Linked DNA regions of Homo sapiens: region 2 is reported to be linked to region 1. Evidence: microRNA targets listed by miRTarBase, many of them from high-throughput screens and not tested one by one. Region 1 holds a microRNA gene; the other region holds the end of a gene's coding sequence.
Evidence for each region. Region 1 holds the annotated microRNA hsa-miR-675-3p (CUGUAUGCCCUCACCGCUCA, at 1,928-1,947, shown strand). A microRNA usually pairs through its seed, bases 2 to 8, with sites in the 3' UTR of a target mRNA and lowers its output. Matches are read on the target gene's strand: a 7mer-m8 pairs with bases 2 to 8, a 7mer-A1 pairs with bases 2 to 7 and ends in A, and an 8mer does both.

Region 2: miRTarBase lists ZNF268 as a target of hsa-miR-675-3p. Seed matches in the 3' UTR shown: 7mer-m8 at 2,078-2,084.

What each region holds. Positions count from the first base shown.
Region 1 is chr11:1,995,508-1,998,714 of GRCh38, reverse strand. MIR675 (microRNA 675) reads left to right here and starts at 1,884; the gene lies at 1,884-1,956. H19 (H19 imprinted maternally expressed transcript) reads left to right here and starts at 873. Exons shown (of 5, transcript NR_002196.3): 1 at 873-2,197; 2 at 2,294-2,428; 3 at 2,524-2,636; 4 at 2,717-2,839; 5 at 2,921-3,207. It also overlaps a transcript of MRPL23 not described here. RefSeq lists enhancers at 1-513, 514-1,361.
Region 2 is chr12:133,204,028-133,207,126 of GRCh38, forward strand. It overlaps ZNF268 (zinc finger protein 268), which reads left to right. Exons shown (of 6, transcript NM_003415.3): 6 at 1-3,099. The coding sequence ends at 503. Among named protein-coding and RNA genes, the nearest start is that of ZNF268, 24 kb to the left of the region's middle.

The DNA of each region.
Region 1 (3,207 bases):
CGGCTTTGACACTCGAGACTTGAGGTGAACCCCAGGGACTGCAGGGCCCCAACAACCCTCACCAAAGGCCAAGGTGGTGACCGACGGACCCACAGCGGGGTGGCTGGGGGAGTCGAAACTCGCCAGTCTCCACTCCACTCCCAACCGTGGTGCCCCACGCGGGCCTGGGAGAGTCTGTGAGGCCGCCCACCGCTTGTCAGTAGAGTGCGCCCGCGAGCCGTAAGCACAGCCCGGCAACATGCGGTCTTCAGACAGGAAAGTGGCCGCGAATGGGACCGGGGTGCCCAGCGGCTGTGGGGACTCTGTCCTGCGGAAACCGCGGTGACCAGCACAAGCTCGGTCAACTGGATGGGAATCGGCCTGGGGGGCTGGCACCGCGCCCACCAGGGGGTTTGCGGCACTTCCCTCTGCCCCTCAGCACCCCACCCCTACTCTCCAGGAACGTGAGGTCTGAGCCGTGATGGTGGCAGGAAGGGGCCCTCTGTGCCATCCGAGTCCCCAGGGACCCGCAGCTGGCCCCCAGCCATGTGCAAAGTATGTGCAGGGCGCTGGCAGGCAGGGAGCAGCAGGCATGGTGTCCCCTGAGGGGAGACAGTGGTCTGGGAGGGAGAAGTCCTGGACCCTGAGGGAGGTGATGGGGCAATGCTCAGCCCTGTCTCCGGATGCCAAAGGAGGGGTGCGGGGAGGCCGTCTTTGGAGAATTCCAGGATGGGTGCTGGGTGAGAGAGACGTGTGCTGGAACTGTCCAGGGCGGAGGTGGGCCCTGCGGGGGCCCTCGGGAGGGCCCTGCTCTGATTGGCCGGCAGGGCAGGGGCGGGAATTCTGGGCGGGGCCACCCCAGTTAGAAAAAGCCCGGGCTAGGACCGAGGAGCAGGGTGAGGGAGGGGGTGGGATGGGTGGGGGGTAACGGGGGAAACTGGGGAAGTGGGGAACCGAGGGGCAACCAGGGGAAGATGGGGTGCTGGAGGAGAGCTTGTGGGAGCCAAGGAGCACCTTGGACATCTGGAGTCTGGCAGGAGTGATGACGGGTGGAGGGGCTAGCTCGAGGCAGGGCTGGTGGGGCCTGAGGCCAGTGAGGAGTGTGGAGTAGGCGCCCAGGCATCGTGCAGACAGGGCGACATCAGCTGGGGACGATGGGCCTGAGCTAGGGCTGGAAAGAAGGGGGAGCCAGGCATTCATCCCGGTCACTTTTGGTTACAGGACGTGGCAGCTGGTTGGACGAGGGGAGCTGGTGGGCAGGGTTTGATCCCAGGGCCTGGGCAACGGAGGTGTAGCTGGCAGCAGCGGGCAGGTGAGGACCCCATCTGCCGGGCAGGTGAGTCCCTTCCCTCCCCAGGCCTCGCTTCCCCAGCCTTCTGAAAGAAGGAGGTTTAGGGGATCGAGGGCTGGCGGGGAGAAGCAGACACCCTCCCAGCAGAGGGGCAGGATGGGGGCAGGAGAGTTAGCAAAGGTGACATCTTCTCGGGGGGAGCCGAGACTGCGCAAGGCTGGGGGGTTATGGGCCCGTTCCAGGCAGAAAGAGCAAGAGGGCAGGGAGGGAGCACAGGGGTGGCCAGCGTAGGGTCCAGCACGTGGGGTGGTACCCCAGGCCTGGGTCAGACAGGGACATGGCAGGGGACACAGGACAGAGGGGTCCCCAGCTGCCACCTCACCCACCGCAATTCATTTAGTAGCAGGCACAGGGGCAGCTCCGGCACGGCTTTCTCAGGCCTATGCCGGAGCCTCGAGGGCTGGAGAGCGGGAAGACAGGCAGTGCTCGGGGAGTTGCAGCAGGACGTCACCAGGAGGGCGAAGCGGCCACGGGAGGGGGGCCCCGGGACATTGCGCAGCAAGGAGGCTGCAGGGGCTCGGCCTGCGGGCGCCGGTCCCACGAGGCACTGCGGCCCAGGGTCTGGTGCGGAGAGGGCCCACAGTGGACTTGGTGACGCTGTATGCCCTCACCGCTCAGCCCCTGGGGCTGGCTTGGCAGACAGTACAGCATCCAGGGGAGTCAAGGGCATGGGGCGAGACCAGACTAGGCGAGGCGGGCGGGGCGGAGTGAATGAGCTCTCAGGAGGGAGGATGGTGCAGGCAGGGGTGAGGAGCGCAGCGGGCGGCGAGCGGGAGGCACTGGCCTCCAGAGCCCGTGGCCAAGGCGGGCCTCGCGGGCGGCGACGGAGCCGGGATCGGTGCCTCAGCGTTCGGGCTGGAGACGAGGGTGAGTTTTTCCCCCTCTGCCACCCTCAGCCCCCACCCGCCCCTCCCCACACAACCAACACGTTCTCCCCACACGACTCTCTCGTTCTCCCCACAGCCAGGTCTCCAGCTGGGGTGGACGTGCCCACCAGCTGCCGAAGGCCAAGACGCCAGGTCCGGTGGACGTGACAAGCAGGACATGACATGGTCCGGTGTGACGGCGAGGACAGAGGAGGCGCGTCCGGCCTTCCTGGTGAGCGTGTCTGCCCTCCCTGCGTCAGGACGCGGCCCTGCCCAGACCGCCCCGCCGGGCCACCATCTCACTGCCCCGACCTCTGTCTTCTACAGAACACCTTAGGCTGGTGGGGCTGCGGCAAGAAGCGGGTCTGTTTCTTTACTTCCTCCACGGAGTCGGCACACTATGGCTGCCCTCTGGGCTCCCAGAACCCACAACATGAAAGGTGAGGGGCTTCCTGCCACACTTGGGGTGGGGGGCACGCGAGAGGAGCTGAGTGGGACCTCACTCCTTCCCCATCCACAGAAATGGTGCTACCCAGCTCAAGCCTGGGCCTTTGAATCCGGACACAAAACCCTCTAGCTTGGAAATGAATATGCTGCACTTTACAACCACTGCACTACCTGACTCAGGAATCGGCTCTGGAAGGTGAGCACCAGCGCTCCTTCCGGAAGCCTCCAGGCCCCCGAGCACCCTGCCCCCATCCCACCCACGTGTCGCTATCTCTAGGTGAAGCTAGAGGAACCAGACCTCATCAGCCCAACATCAAAGACACCATCGGAACAGCAGCGCCCGCAGCACCCACCCCGCACCGGCGACTCCATCTTCATGGCCACCCCCTGCGGCGGACGGTTGACCACCAGCCACCACATCATCCCAGAGCTGAGCTCCTCCAGCGGGATGACGCCGTCCCCACCACCTCCCTCTTCTTCTTTTTCATCCTTCTGTCTCTTTGTTTCTGAGCTTTCCTGTCTTTCCTTTTTTCTGAGAGATTCAAAGCCTCCACGACTCTGTTT
Region 2 (3,099 bases), not on the chromosome of region 1:
GGTGCAGTGAATGTGGGAAAGCTTTTAGCAGCAAGTCATACCTAATTATACACATGAGAACTCATTCAGGTGAAAAACCATATGAATGTAATGAATGTGGGAAAGCCTTCATTTGGAAATCACTACTCATTGTACATGAGCGAACTCATGCAGGGGTCAACCCTTATAAATGCAGTCAATGTGAGAAATCCTTCAGTGGGAAATTACGCCTTCTTGTACACCAGAGAATGCACACAAGAGAGAAACCATATGAATGCAGTGAGTGTGGAAAAGCCTTCATTAGGAATTCTCAACTCATTGTACATCAAAGAACTCATTCAGGAGAGAAACCCTATGGGTGCAATGAATGTGGGAAAACCTTCTCTCAAAAATCAATTCTCAGTGCACATCAGAGAACACATACAGGAGAGAAGCCTTGTAAGTGCACTGAATGTGGGAAAGCCTTTTGTTGGAAGTCACAGCTCATTATGCATCAGAGAACTCATGTAGATGACAAACATTGATAATTTTACGAAACTCTGAAAAGTGGATTCACAAGAGATAGAAACAATCATATATAAAGAGAAACTCTGTAAGTGGAATCATCTTGTCATCTTCCAGAAAACTCATACTGAATAGAAACTTTATGAATGCACAGCATATGGAAAGGCATCCACAGAAAGCTGTTCTTTACATGCAAAAAGATAGTAGACAATACACAGGAAAACTGAATTTAGTAACCACTCTGAAAATTTTTAGCAGCAAGTCATACCTTTTTTTAAAAAGTTCATACAGGTGAGGAACCATGTTAAACGTTGTAAAGTCATTTTACTAAAATAAGATTCACAAAGAGGAAACTTCATGAACCAGATGAATATAGAATAGACTTCTTTGAAATTCATAGTTTACAGAATTTTAATGAGAGAAATTATTGAGCTAATGAATGGCAGAATTAACAAAATTACAAACATTTTATGTATCGGAAGCATATACCTTGGAGGGACCATGCTATAAGGGAAAGTGTAAATCTAGAAATGAGAAACCCCTAGGGAAAAAATATATATAGGAGTGAACATCTTATGAATGTACCAAATAAACCACAGCTGGACTGTTAACCTCACCTTAGAAGCTTCATTCTAAAAAAAAAAAAAAAAAAAAAAAAAAAAACCAACCTGTTATTATATCTTAATATTAATTTTGAAGAATTATTTCTTTTAGGAATCATTTTAAGAAATTTTATTCCAGGTGTTCCAAAATTTCAGGAAAAGGTTTGAGAAAATTCTCAATTATAAATAATAAGATACAGATTATTTCATTGTACAAGTGAATCTAGTAAGGAGGTTAAGAATAAGAAATAACATCCCAGAGCCTACAGGGATATTTAGATATCTTCCTATGTGTACTACATAATATGAATTTTGCAGTTTGGCATTTTACTTGCGAATGCCATATGTGAGACAAAAATCATCTTCCAGAGATTTCAGTATCTCTGATACTGACAATATCTCTGATATGACAATATCATCTTCCAGAGATTTCTACTCTGCATACCAACATTGTTTCTTTGTGTCTTACCAAATGCAACTTGTTACTAGAATATGACTTACTAAAAATGCATTTCCACACTGCAAACATTTTTTAGGGCTATCTTCTGCCCTTTGGAAGCAGTCTTGGCAGCAACCTCTTTAGTAATCAATATAAGGCACACTTCATGTGTTTGTGTAGCCTGGAATCTATTCTACCTTCACAGGTTAGAACATCTTGATTTCCTCTTAACGAAACATTCCCTAACGGTGTATGTAGTCATGAGGGAACCACCATTCAAGATGCCCTGCTCAGGACTTGGCATGAGCACTATGGTCAGCTGAGGCTCAGAACTGTACATTGTTAATGGGTTTTTCAAGTTCAGAAAAGCAACATGAGCTTTTGTTCTGTGGTAGCATGTTGATGTAATAAGTAGCTATTTCAATAGAGGTTCCCAGAACAGCTTTTGTTACTGTCATTTTCTTAACTTTGTTCACTTGTCTTTTATTTTGAGCTATTGGGTGTGCTTTTAATACATTCCTTGTTTGATTGCATTAGCCATTGTGTATCTTTTGCATACAGCTTACTAAATCAGATGGCTTCAGAAATGGGTGGTAGAGGAGTAGGCAGAAACTTGCAAGGATATGTGGATATTTGGAAATGGTTGTTTCCCAAGACAGGATGGAAGTCTTTTAAGCAAGAAACTTGGCCCATGCTATGAAGTCATGAAATGAATTGTTGGCATCATGTGCTCACTGAGGCTTTGGGGAAATGGATAAGTTGTCATTGAAAAATTTTAAACAGAATTCTGGAGTGGTCAAGAGGGGAATGCTTTTGATACCCATGTATAACATGGAGAATAATGATCTTAAAACTTCAATTTAAGATTATGTGTCAGTGATACTACTTAGTTACATGTAGCTATAGAGTCACAGTGGTGAAAAACTCTGCCAGTTGCTTACTCACAAAGTTAGTTTTCTTCACTACCTCATCAGGTTTGTTATGTGAGTGGGCATTAATCTGGGAAGAGTGGGACCCTGCCAGTTAGATTAGGGCTATCTTGGAGGAATATGCGGATTCAATACTGCAAATATTTCTGAAACACCTTCTGCTTTGTACTCTATTAGATACCCAAAGAAATTTTCATCCTTGAAGCGGAGGAATTTAATGATACCTGAATGCCTAACTGTTGTATTCTGCTTATACAGAATCCAATCTCAAGATACTTGGGGTGAAGAATGATGATTCACAGAAGGGAAGGGACATCTTACATAAACAAATAATCGCAGATACTTGCTAAAGTGTATCCCCCAATCTGGGAAATACTGTAAAGGTGTATATTATTATTGATGTACCAAAGAAGACAGAATAAATTCATAAGAGAAAGTTTATATTCAGTTTACTACTACCTAGGGTTAGATTTTAGTTTGTTGTTTTTTCAGATGCAAATCTACATGCAGCCTTGCCTGGTAGAAGCCAGAAGTGTTGACAGTATTGAGGACAGCACTCACATACTGTGGGAAAGAATAATACTTGATTAGGACTTATTATTTAATGAAATGAAAATTTTACAAAACAGAAATTGAGTTACTGGTT